2 separate regions of the Homo sapiens genome follow, and region 2 is linked to region 1. Evidence: fine-mapped expression QTL. A gene starts in region 1. The other region holds a variant in brackets. All regions are shown on one strand. Distances are between the middles of the regions.

What was found. PIP is the estimated chance that this variant, and not a neighbour inherited with it, causes the effect.
Region 2: its variant is the best candidate, but not a certain one, in a credible set for the expression of UBE2Z in lung (TOPMed, PIP 0.69).

Annotation. Positions count from the first base shown.
Region 1 is chr17:48,907,329-48,909,828 of GRCh38, forward strand. UBE2Z (ubiquitin conjugating enzyme E2 Z) reads left to right here and starts at 1,079. Exons shown (of 7, transcript NM_023079.5): 1 at 1,079-1,492. The coding sequence starts at 1,176. LOC105371814 (a long non-coding RNA gene) reads right to left here and starts at 1,655. Exons shown (of 4, transcript NR_135674.1): 1 at 1,611-1,655. RefSeq lists silencers at 1,218-1,467, 1,738-1,867.
Region 2 is chr17:48,949,792-48,952,575 of GRCh38, forward strand. No RefSeq gene overlaps it. Among named protein-coding and RNA genes, the nearest start is that of SNF8, 6.3 kb to the left of the region's middle. The variant A/G (reference allele first, on the strand shown) is at 1,319.

The sequences.
Region 1 (2,500 bases):
CGCGCCCGGCAAGGAAAAACAGTTTTTTAGGAAGGCCCCTGTCATTCTTAGTCCATAGGAATTTTTTTTTTTTTTTTTGAGACGGAGTCTGGCTCTGTCGCCCAGGCTGGAGTGCAGTGGCGTGATCTCAACTCACTGCAAACTCCGCCTCCCGGGTTCAAGTGATCCACCTGCCTAAGCCTCCTGAGTAGCTGGGACTACAGGTGCACGCCACCACGCCCGGCTAATTTTTGTATTTTTAATAGAGGCGGGGTTTCACCATGTTAGGCTGGTCTCGAACTCCTAACCTCGTGATTCGCCCACCTCGGCCTCCCAAAGTGCTGGGATTACAGGCGTGAGCCACCGAGCCTGGCAGATTATTTTTCACTTTAAACATTTTAGGAAAGACCCAAAGAATCCTCAGGGTTTACACTCACAGTACCTCGATTCCTGTATATTCCAAGATTTGTGGGAAGAAAAAGTACTAAGCTTGGAGTCAGGAGGCCTGATGTTTCTTCCTTTCACCAAGCTTCTCTAGTTCTGTTTCATTATCCCCATGGCAACAACTAGCAACAGTGACTGGCATTTAGTAGGCCCTTCATAAATATATGTTGAATAAACTCTAAAAGAGGTAGCTTTTCATTCCAAGTTGAGTTCTCTCTTGGTCCTGTTGCAGGCAAGGGCAATGGTACCCTGCCCTAGGTGCACAAGTGTGCAGGAGGGATCAATCGCAGAGCCTTTCCGAGAGAAGGGGCCCAAAGCGAGTCAACTTCTCTACTGAGCTTCCCATGAGGATGCTGGATCCCCAATCCTAACCATGCAGACGTCTGAGGGTCGCCGCCATTAACGGGAATGATATGGCCCTTCCTCCCCCACTCCCTCCTCTCTTCTCCCCTTTCAACACTTGAATTGGGCTCTCCGCTACTTCCGCACAGCGCAGGACCCACACGAGCCCAGAACCATCACGGCCTGCTAGTTCCCACCCCTCCCGTCCTGGAGGACCGTAGGTGGACGCTCTTGCAGAGCGCCTCTCGCTGGTTGGGGCGGGGGTGGGCGGAGCCAGCACCGTCTGGGCTGTGGAAGCGGAGGGGGTGGGGACACTCTGGCCCGGTTCTCGGTGGTGCGGGAGCGGGCGGGAGCAGCGGCCGCTCTGGTCGGCGGACGTGCTGCCGAGTAGTCCCGGAAGCGAAGCAGCGATGGCGGAGAGTCCGACTGAGGAGGCGGCAACGGCGGGCGCCGGGGCGGCGGGCCCCGGGGCGAGCAGCGTTGCTGGTGTTGTTGGCGTTAGCGGCAGCGGCGGCGGGTTCGGGCCGCCTTTCCTGCCGGATGTGTGGGCGGCGGCGGCGGCAGCGGGCGGGGCCGGGGGCCCGGGGAGCGGCCTGGCTCCGCTGCCCGGGCTCCCGCCCTCAGCCGCTGCCCACGGGGCCGCGCTGCTTAGCCACTGGGACCCCACGCTCAGCTCCGACTGGGACGGCGAGCGCACCGCGCCGCAGTGTCTACTCCGGATCAAGCGGTGAGCCGGGGTTTTTCCTCCCCCAGCCCCGAGCTCCGGGGCTCGACCTTCCCCGCCCCCCACCCTCTCCCACTACAACTCACCCCCCACCCACTGCGCTGCCCTCGCGGCGGCCCACCTCCACGGCCCAAATCTTGCCAGCTCCGGGCGTCGGGATCCAACTCCCTTCTCCCCCCACCCTCAGACCCGCAAGCACCAACCCCCGCCTCGTGTGCCCAGATCCGACCCCGCCCCTCGACAACCTCCCGTGAGCCCTCCGTCTCCATTCCGGCCACCCTCCCCCACACCTCCCACCTCCGGGTGGAAACCCGACCCTTTAGCGCTTCAGTAACGCCCCCTCCCGCCTTCGGCGCCGCCCCTATTTCCCCTTCCCCACCCCAACCTTGCTAGATGCTGCCCGCAGGCCCCACCCATCGGTCCCCTCTCTTCTCCTCTGGAGCCCCGTTCCTAACACAGACGAACTCAGCTTCCTTTGCCATGCCTCTGACTCGAGCCAACCTTTCTTTTTATCCTCCGTTTTTCTCAGATTCCCTCCACACAGTCTTTTCCCAGGTCTAGATCGCTTCCCTCGCCCCAATCTTTCCTTGAACCCCTTTTCCAGTGTCCCAAAGCTGTCCACTCTTACGCCTCTTCCAGAAACACAGGCTACCTCCCCCCAATTCCCCAGTGCCACTCTGGATTGTAATATCCCACTCAGGAGCTTCTTTCTTGTAATTTCCCTCCCCCCACCCCCCACCCTCCCCGGGTCGTCTGTTTTACTTCTATGAAGCAAATATACTCATCAAATATAGGAACAAAGGCCTAAGTCCTTTCTGTGCTTATTTCTTGGGTGACTGATCTTAGATCCTATCATTTAGTAGATGATGTTTTCCAGAAGCACATAGAATAGTACCTATCGCATAAGAAAAGGGCAGTGCTCTTTAGCTATTAATCCTGAAACCTGTTTGACTTCTCCCCATGCCCCCATCACAAGCATCTTCGTTTAGTTCTTATTCCCCATGTTCCACG
Region 2 (2,784 bases), 43 kb after region 1:
TTTTAGTAGAGATGGGGCTTCTCCATGTTGGTCAGGCTAGTCTCGAACTCCCGATCTCTGGTGATCCGCCTACCTTGGCCTCCCAAAGTGCTGGGATTACAGGTATAAGCCACCGCGTCTGGCTTTTTTTTTTTTTTTTTTTTTTTTAGATGGAGTTTCCCTTTGTTGCCCAGGCTGGAGTGCAGTAGCACAATCTCAGCTCACTACAATCTCTGCCTCCTGGGTTTAAGCGATTCTCCTGCATCAGCCTTCCGAGTAGCTGCCACCATGCCCGACTAATTTCTGTAGTTTTAGTAGGGACAGGGTTTCACCCCTGTTGGCCAGGCTGGTCTTGAACTCCTAACCTCAAGTGATCCACCCGCCTTGGCCTCCCAAACTGCTGGGATTACAGGCGTCAGCCATCTTGCCCAGCTGCCAAATCTAATTTTTTTTTTGTTTTTTTGGAGACGGAATCTCGCTCTGTTGCCCAGGCTAGAGTGCAGTGGCGCAATCTCGGCTCACTGCAACTTCCACCTCCTGGGTTCAAGCAATTCTGTCTCAGCCTCCTACGTAGCTGGGACTACCGTGCACACTGCCATGCCCAGCTAATATTTTGTGCTTTAGTAAAGACGAGGTTTTACCATGTTACCCAGGCTGGTCTGGAACTCCTGAGCTCAGGCAATCTGCCCGCCTCGGCCTCCCAAAGCGCTAGGATTACAGGCGTGAGCCTCTGCGCCCGGCCTTTTGTTTTGTTTTGTTTTTTGTTTTTTTTTTTGAGACAGAGTCTTCCTCTGTTGCCCAGGCTGGAGTGCAATGGCATGATCTCAGCTCACTGCAACCTCTGCCTCCCGGGTTCAAGCAATTCTCCTGCCTTAGCCTCCCGGGTAGCTGGGACTACAGGCGCACATCATCACACCTGGCTAATTTGTGTATTTTTAGTAAAGACAGGGTTTCGCCACGTTGGCCAGGCTGGTTTCAAACTCCCAACCTCAAGTGATCCACCCACCTTGGCCTCCCAAAGTGCTGAGATACCATGCATGAGCCACCACCCCCAGCCATCATATGAGGTCTTAACTACATAGCTTCCAAACACAAAACTTGGTCCCATAGGTACTCACTGACACCATCTAGATATACCTGCTTCCTCCCTTACTCTTTGACTCATTATACAGTGCCCTAAGGTATACACACTGATCCGCTCGCTCACAGTGAAGACCTTAGATTTAATCATTCATGCCTTCAAATGCATACACACATGCCTAGTCCCTTTTTTTTTTTTTTTTTTTTGTGATGGAGTTTCGCTGTTGTTGCCTGGGCTGGAGTGCAATGGTGCGATCTC[A/G]GCTCACTGCAACTTCTGCCTCCTGGGTTCAAGCTATTCTCCTACCTCAGCCTCCGGAGTAGCTGGGATTACAGGCATGTGCCACCAAGCCTGGCCAAGTTTTTGTATTTTTATTAGAGACGGGGTTTCTCCATGGTGGTCAGGCTGGTCTTGAACTCCTGATCTCAGGTGATCCGCCCGCCTCGGCCTCCCAGAGTGCTGGGATTACAAGCATGAGCCACTGCGCCTGGACTTTTTTTTTTTTTGAAACCGAGTTTCGCTCCTGTTGCCCAGGCTGGAGTGCAGTGGCGTGATCTCAGCTTACTGCAACCTCTGCCTCCTGGGTTCAAGAGATTCTCCTGCCTCAACCTCCCAAGTAGCTGGGACTACAGGCGCTCGCAACCATGGCCGGCTAATTTTGGCTTTTTAGTAGAGACAAGGTTTTACCACATTGGCCAGGCTGGTCTTGAACTCCTAACCTCAGGTGATCCACCTGCCTTGGCTTCCCAAAGTGCGGGATTACAGGCGTTAGCCACCATGCCTGGCTATGCCTAGTCCCTTAGATGCACGAAATGGACCTCAATGGCTATGCTGAGTGTAGCCACACTCAGGCAGACATGCTCATCCTCCTATGCAGATACCTTTGTACCGTTTTATAATTTTAGGGAAAATATGCTGACCAGTGATATCCTGGTAAGGGTTTAACAACTACCTTGCCAGGTTGGGAGAGGGGAACCCTGATTTGTAGCATTTGCCTATCTCCATGGTGTAAATACTCTGATCATGGGCTTGATATGTTGCCAGGATGGTGTACGGTGGCTATTCACAGGTGCCATCACAGGGCACTACAGCTTTGAACAACTGGGCTTAAGTGATCCTCCTGCCTCAGTCTCTCAAGTAGATGGGACAAGGCACTCGCCACTGTGCCTGCTTCCAGCACATCACTGAATGCTGACCATTATGGAATCCCTCGTTTGCTTTAAGTGACTCATTGGCTTCGTGGCAGGGTGGCTAAGAACATGGTCTTTTTGCGGGGAGGGGCACGGAGTTTCGCTTTTGTTGCCCAGGCTGGAGTGTAATGGTGCAATCTCGCCTCACCGCAACCTCCGCCTCCTGGGTTCAAGCGATTCTCCTGCCTCAGCCTCCTGAGTAGCTGGGACCACAGTCATGCGCCCCCACGCCCGGCTAACTTTGCATTTTTAGTAGAGATGGGGTCTCTCCATGTTGGTTAGGCTGGTCTCGAACTCCTGACCTCAGGTGATCCACCTGCCTCGGCCTCCCAAAGTGCTGGGATTACAGGCGCGAGACACTGCGCCCGGCTAGAACATGGTCTTTTATTTTTATTTTTATTTTTTTTGGAGACAGGGTCTCACTATGTCACACAGGCTGGAATGCGGTGGTGCCATCATAGCTCATTGTAACCTCGAACTCCTGGGCTTAAGGGATCCTGTGGCCTCAGCCTTTCAAGCAGCTGGGACTACAGATGC